Homo sapiens: one gene and its partner. The protein of the gene in region 1 purifies or fractionates together with the protein of each later gene. This does not show direct contact. Each region holds a gene or a part of one and is shown in the gene's direction. Other genes may lie near its edges.

Region 1 (3,819 bases):
CCATGATGCAGAGCAGGGGATTATAGGTAGGGTGAGACAGGCTTACCTGGGAGCGTGCCCGGGCTGAACACCAGCCTCCATCTCTGAAAAGGCCCCCTGGTAGGGTCAGACCCACACACCTGTCCAGGAATCAGTGATTGAAATCTGGGGTTCCCAAGCTCTAGCCCACAAGTCAGTGGACTGTGGCTGCACCACGGACAGCCCCAGTCTGTGTGTCACCCCCATCTTCCCTAGCTCTGAGGGTGAATGTGTGGACACGGTGAAAGCAGCTGTTCTCTTCTCTGCTCAGTGTGCCTCAAAAATTGACATCAAATGCAGTTGTTTTTCAACATATTTATGTGAAGTGAGTTTTTTTTGCCAATGACTAAGATTAAAAAGAAAGTAAATTTTGGGGATTTAATTGTATTTTAGATCATAGAAAAGTTGATAAATTTGTGATGAGAGAAAATTGTATACATATTGTAAAATAGGACATTGTGATTTTTTTCTGCTTTCTAAGTATTTAAATATATCCCTTAAACAATATATTTAATTTGAAGTTGCCTCTCATCCTCCTTTAGGAAAGACTTTTATTCTGAGCTTTTCTCTTTCCTTGATTTTAGTCTTTCATGAAATGATATTAAAAATAGACTTAATAACATTTTTTTAAAAACCTGATACAGGCTCCCCAGTTTTATTATTTTATTTCACTCATCCATGAAATCCAAAGGTTTGCTCCTTGACCTGGAAGACAGGTGTAGACTGAATCAAAGAATGATAAGGTTTAAACTTCCTTCTGGTGGGGTGCAGTGGCTCATGTCTGTAATACTAGCACTTCAGGAGCCCAAGGTCAGAGGATTGCTTGAGCCCAGGAGTTTGAGACCAGCCTGGGCAACATGGTGAATCCCCATCTCTACAAAAAAATTAAAAAATCAGCTGGGCATGCTGGTGCACGCTTATGCTCCCAGCTACTTGGAAGGCTGAGGTGAGAGGCTCGCTTGAGTCCTGGAGGTCGAGTTGTGATGCTGCCACTGCAGTCTAGCCTGGGTGACAGAGCAAGACCTTGTCTCAAAAAAAAAAAAAAAAAATGTAGATTAAAAGGAACCCTTGCAGACTGTTGGTGAGAATGTAAATTGATGCAGCCGCTATGAAAAACCCCACTGCACTGCAGCCTGGGCAACAGAGTGAGACCCTGCCTCAAAACAAAAAAATAAATAGGCTGGGCGCGGTGGTTTACACCTGTAATCCCTGCACTTTGGGAGGCCGAGGCGGGTGGATCACCTGAGGTCAGGAGTTCGAGACCAGCCTGGCCAACATGGTGAAACCCCCATCTCTACTAAAAATACAAAAAATTAGCTGGGCATGGTAGTGCGTGCCTGTAATCCCAGCTACTCAGGAGGCTGAGGCAGGAGAATCGCTTGAACCTGGGAGGTGGAGGTTACAGTGAGCTGAGATCACGCCACTGCACTCCAGCCTGGGGAACAAGAGCAAAACTCTGTCTCAAAAAATAAAAAATAAATAAATAAAATTGCTTCTGTCACTGGCCCTAGCAGCTTTGGCAAATCTCACCACTTAGGGCCTCGAACTCCTCACCTGTGAATGAGGGACCTGACCATGGTCATCCCTGAAGTCCCAGCATTTAACTCGTAACATGACAAAAAGCAAACCAGGGCTGGGCACAGAGGCTCACACCTGTAATCCCAGCACTTTCAGAGGCCGAGGTGGGTGGATAGCTTGAGATCAGGAGTTCGAGACCAGCTTGGCCAATATGATGAAACCCCGTCTCTACTAAAAATAGGAAAACAAATTAGCTGGGCCATGGTGGCGCATGCCTGTAGTCCCAGCTACTTGGAAGGTTGAGACAGGAGAATCGCTTGAACCTGGGAAGTGGAGGTTGCAGTGAGCTGAGATTGCACCATTGCACTCCAGCCTGGGCATCTCAGTGAGACTCCATCTTAAAAAAAAAAAAAAGAAAAGGAAAAAAAAAAAAAAAGGCAGCATGGTAAGGCCGGGTTTTTATAGATTGGGTCTTTGGAGTGTGCTGTTGGCCTTGGCCACATAGCTGTCTCCTGCCATGCCCTGGCTTTGTGGGGCGCCTAAACCTGTTTTCAGATGATGATTTTGAGTGAGATACAAGTGTAGCTACTTGGAAAAGATTCAGTAGCATCCCTGAGCTATAGTGATAGAAACCCCGTCCTTGTCCCTTCTGTGGAGCAGCCTGTTGGAGCTTCTCTGGGTTGGCCTAGGCCCAGAGATGAGGTCAGCAGCTCAAGGGTCTAGTGTTTTTAGCTGTCTTCCCAGCCCTGCTCCAGAGCCCCCATGTAACCTGCTGCCCTGCAGTGCCCAGCACAGAGCAGTGTCTGTTGAATGCGTGAGTCAAGCAAAACATCAAACAGAATCCTTGACATGGGAAAAACATGCTCCCAGCCACCACCAGCTGAACATTGACATCCAGCTGCTTTCCCACTGGGCAGTGGCTTGTGAAGATGGGGACAGAGTATCATAAATCATCTCCTTTGTGGACAGCAGGGATGATCCTGACCTTCTTGTCACAGACTAAACAGACTAAGTAGCCAGAAGAAAAAAAAAGAAAGAAAGAAAAAAGGGGCTTAAAGGCACTCAGCTGTCAAAATTATAAGGAGGGTTTGTTAAAACTATTTTTTAAAAAAGAAAAGTGGTTAAGTTATGCAGTAGGATATAATATTCTATAATAACTTATTACCAAACTTTTAGCCTTAATCCAGTTGCTATTTTCCTCTTGTCTATTGGATAGACGTATGGAATGTTCTTTTTTTCCCTAAATTTAGTCATGTGCATTTTTTTTCCTATTTATATTGTGGGTTTTTTTTTTTTTTGAGATGGAGTCTTGCTCTGTAGCCCAGACTGGAGTGCAGTGGTGCAATCTCTGCTCACTGCAACCTCCGCCTCCCGGGTTCAAGCGATTCTCCTGCCTTCCAAGTATCTGGGATTACAGGCATGCACCACTATGTCTGGGTAATTTTCATATTTTTAGTAGAGACGGGGTTTCACCATGTTGGCCAGTCTGGTCTTGAACTCCTGACCTCAAGTGATCCACCCACCTCAGCCTCCCAAAGTGCTGGGATTACAGGCGTGAGCCACCGTGCCCTGCCTATATTGTGGATTCTATGTAGATGTTCCAGTGGCTTTTAGGAAGGTCTTTATGATTTCACACATCTGTCTACAGTCATGTCTGCAGAGCAGACTCTCCCCACTCCCTCTGCAGACAGCTGTAAAACATTGTCTTTCATCTCACAGGTATTAGCTTCCTACATGAGTAAAATCAGGTTTAAGTGAATAAAAATTGTGCATCTCTTCCCATGTACCAGGGAAGTATTTTTGGTGCCTCCAAAGACCGAGCACGGTTCACGCCTCTGCTGGCCTTCACACCGCTGCAGCCACACAGTGCAGAAGCCTGCTCCCTGCTGCCCACAAGCATGAGGCAGGTGGGAAGGGGGATGCTCGTGCCACCTTGTAGGCGGGCAGGCAGTCTCATGGGCAGAGGTGTACACAAGGTGGGTGATGAGGAAGACAGCTCTAGGGTATGAATGATCAGCTGCTGAAAAACATCCAGTGCTCAGTGTGGGTACTTAGAGTTATTCTCATAAAAAATGTGAGGCAGAGTTAGTCAGGTGTGGTGATGCATGCCTGTGGTCCCAGCTACTCAGGAGGCTGAGGCAGGAGGATTGCTTGAGCCCAGTGGTTTGTGGCTTCAGTGAGCCATGATTGTGCCACTGCACTCCAGCCTGGCTGACAAAGCGAGACCATGTCTCCAAGAAAAAAAAAAAAAATTTCTAAAAGTACTTGCTGGGTTACACTAAA
Region 2 (3,819 bases), on another chromosome or scaffold:
TAGAGTAAATTTTCTAATAGCAGGATAGATAAAGTCCTATGGGAATATCAGGGAACAAGTGATTAATTTTATCTAGATGGTAGGAGAGCTTTATTCACAGAAGGCACGTTAGTTGAGCTTGTCCTTAAAGAATAAATTGTTCAATAAGTCATAAAAATACAGAAGACCCATTCTAGGCAGAGGAAAAAACATCAGCAAAATTGTAGAAGGGTGGAATTTATGGTATGTTCTAAGAATGGTTTCTTGCTCAGTGAAGGTAGAACATGGAATATATCAGACTTTTCTTATCACCAAAATGATACCATTTGCCCTAAATATACCAATAGGGTACTTGTGGGGGTAAATAGAAATTGGAACGTATGATTATGAAAACTATATATATATATATATATATTTTCAAGACTCTTGTTATTGTTGAGGTCATGATAGATAAGGAAAAGGAGGTATGAAAAAGTGGATCAAGTAAGAGGATTGAAGTGACACTACAAAATTGAGGATTAGAGGCCAGGTGCAGTGGCTTACGCCTATAATCCCAAGACTTTGGAAGGCCGAGGCAGGCAGATCACCTGAGGTCAGGAGTTTGAGACCAACCTGGCCAACATGGTGAAACCCCATCTCTACTAAAAATACAAAAAATTAGCTAGGCGTGGTAGTGCATACCTGTAATCACAGCTACTTTGGAGGCTGAGGCAGGAGAATCACTTGAATGGAGACGGAAGTTGCGGTGAGCCAAGATTGTGCCATTGCACCCCAGCCTGGGTGACAAGAACAAAAAAAAAAAAAACAAAAAAAAAAACTTCTTTTCAAAAAAAAAAAAAGAAAAATTGAGTATAGAAAACTTGAATTTGAGTTTTCAAAAATGTTCCTTTAATATCTTAAATTTAGGGAAAGCCTTTTCTATGGCAAAGGAATATACGTATACTTACATAGTTTTGTTCTCCTTTTGAAGTGTAGTATCATCTAGACACAATGTGTATGTTGGACTGAAATTGTGTTTTTTTGTTGTTGTTGTGTTTTAGGTGGTGAAAACAGTTGGTTTGCGTGAGGTCTGGTTTTTTGGGCTGCAGTATGTAGACAGCAAAGGTTATTCTACATGGCTTAAACTAAATAAAAAGGTAAAATATGTACGATAACATTAAACTAATAATTATGTTAAGTTGAAGTTATGAATTTGTGCTGGAAAAGCTAAGTCTGACTGATTGCAAGCTTCCTTTTGTAGTTATCTGTTAATCATTATGAGGTACCATGTTTTTTTAAATTCAATCAGGCACCATCAGCTTATCATCTCAAAAAAAAAAAAAAGAAATGCTTACTTTTCCTATTTGAAAACTTAGCCTATAACAAATATTAAAGCAGATATTACAAATGGCATACTAAGTACTTCAATTTTGATGTAAATACCTGTAGGATAAGCTTCTCAAGAATATGAAAAAAAGTTTTCAATTTGGTTATTAGAATCTGAGTTATAGGTCACATTCAAGAGCATAGAATCTTTTACCACATATATTTGTTTACAGATTTAGACTATTACACACTAAAATCTTCATAGATTTAGAATCTATTTCACTTCATTTTCTTCCAAAAAGAATTTGATGTGACTAGGTCTAATTATTGTAAACTTAAGATTTTTGTTGATTATACTTGAAATTATTTTTCCAGGTAACACAGCAGGATGTTAAAAAAGAGAATCCTTTACAGTTCAAGTTTAGAGCTAAATTCTTTCCTGAAGATGTTTCTGAGGAATTAATTCAAGAAATAACCCAGAGACTCTTCTTCTTGCAAGTTAAAGAAGCCATCTTAAATGATGAGATATATTGCCCGCCAGAAACTGCAGTTCTTTTGGCTTCCTATGCTGTCCAAGCCAAGTATGGAGATTACAATAAAGAGATTCATAAGCCAGGCTACCTGGCTAATGATAGACTCCTACCCCAGCGGTAAGTGAAACATGCGTTTGCATTATATTGTCTGAAAATTGTATTCTAGAAGTCTATAAATAAAACGTTTTTCAGGTTTTTTTTTTTTTTTGGAGACAGGGTCTGGACCTGTCACCCATGCTGGAGTGCAGTGGCGTGATCTCAGCCCACTGCAACCTCTGCCTCCTGGGTTCAAGCCATCCTTCCACCTCAGCCTCCTGAGTAGCTGGGTCTATAGGCACATGCCATTATGTCCGCTAATTTTTTTTTTAATGTATTTTTCATTGAGATGGGGTTTCATCATGTTGCCCAGGCTGGTCTCAAACTCCTGAGCTCAAGTGATCTGCCCGCCTCAGCCTCCCAAAGTGCTGGGATTACAGGCATGAGCCACCGCACCTGGCCTCTTTTTTTTTTTTTTCCAGATTTTAAGTTGCCAGCTGGATCATGGGGTATACTTCTAAAAATCATTACCTAGCACCTCCATAGATTTATATGCTCTGTAATTACCTAAGGTTGATCTATCTCTTCTTTCCTCATTCCCATAGGGTAAGCAATAAATGGAGGCAGTGATAATTTGGACTTGAGGAAAGGATGTGACTGTTGCTGCTTGGTACAAATTCTAACACAGGCAGGTGCTTAATAAGTGAGAGTAAGTGGCAGGCTGTGTTTTCTTCATAGAATTCTCTGACTTTTTCCCCCCCCGAGATAGAGCCTCACTCTGTCACCCAGGCTGGAGTGCAGTGGTGCAATCTCAGCTCGCTGAGATTGGAGTCTGCCTCTCAGGTTCAAGTGATTCTCCTGCCTCAGCCTCCCGAGTAGCTGGGATTACAGGCATCTGCCGCCATGCCCAGCTAATTTTTGTATTTTTAGCAGAGACAGGGTATCACTATGTTGGCCAGGCTGGTCTCGAACTCCTGACCTCAAGTGATCCTCCCACCTCGGTCTCCCAAAGTGCTGGGATTACAGGCGTGAGCCACTGCTCCTGGCTGAATTTTCTGACTTTCTGAAAAGGCTTTTTAAACTAGGTTTTCAGACTCCTAGGCTGGTGCATTGTTCTTATCTACAGTGTACTGCTGCTTCTATAATGGCTATTTTAAAATAATATGGCATAGGAAAAAATTATCAGAAGACCTAAATTTTGAGTACCGATTCCACCCTTTGCTATATATGTGACCTTAGGTACATGACCTAAAACCTCTGAGCTCAGTATCTAAATCTGCAAAGTGGGGATAATAATCCTTCTCTGGCTACCTTCTAGTTTATGATTATAATTAATGAACTATATGATTTACAGTTTTAATTGTCAAGTGTGAAACGTGTTATTTAGTAGTATTGATGGAATCTAGAAGATGGAACATCAAATATTACTTTTTAATTTTTTTTTTTTTTCTTTGAGATGGAGTCTTGCTCTGTTGCCCAGGCTGGAGTGCAGTGGCACGATCTCGGCTCACTGCAACCTCCGCCTCCCGGATTCAAGCGATTCTCCTGCCTCAGTCTCCTCCTGAGCAGCTGGGATTACAGGCACACACAACCACACCTGGCTAATTTTTGCATTTTTAGTGGAGATGGAGTTTCACCGTGTTGGTCAGGCTGGTCTCGAACTCCTGATCTCAAATGATCCACCCGCTTCGGCCTCCCAAAGTGCTGGGATTATAGGCGTGAGTCACCATGCTCAGCCAAAATTCAATTATTAAATGTCACAGTGTTCCGCCCTTTAATTTTGTAGCAATAGTAGTCACCTTGGAAAAGGATAGAATTATGTAAGTTGTTCACCAAGAGAGTCAGGAATATGAGATATCTGATAGTCTGTTTATATTCTGGTTTTGAATGTTATTCTAACCTAAGATTCTTCATCTTAGATTACTGAATTGAGTAATCAGACTATTATGGTGGAATTTCATTTCAT

Evidence for each region.
Region 2: the proteins of IMPA2 (region 1) and RDX fractionate together in Homo sapiens (co-fractionation; one large-scale study listed by BioGRID). This does not show direct contact.

The regions. Positions count from the first base shown.
Region 1 is NC_000018.10:12,001,715-12,005,533, forward strand, and holds part of IMPA2 (inositol monophosphatase 2), read left to right. Parts: intron 1-3,819. UniProt on the Homo sapiens protein: Phosphatase that can use myo-inositol monophosphates, myo-inositol 1,4-diphosphate, scyllo-inositol-1,4-diphosphate, glucose-1-phosphate, beta-glycerophosphate and 2'-AMP as substrates in vitro.
Region 2 is NC_000011.10:110,262,075-110,265,893, reverse strand, and holds part of RDX (radixin), read left to right. Parts: intron 1-1,019; coding exon 1,020-1,115; intron 1,116-1,659; coding exon 1,660-1,934; intron 1,935-3,819. UniProt on the Homo sapiens protein: Probably plays a crucial role in the binding of the barbed end of actin filaments to the plasma membrane.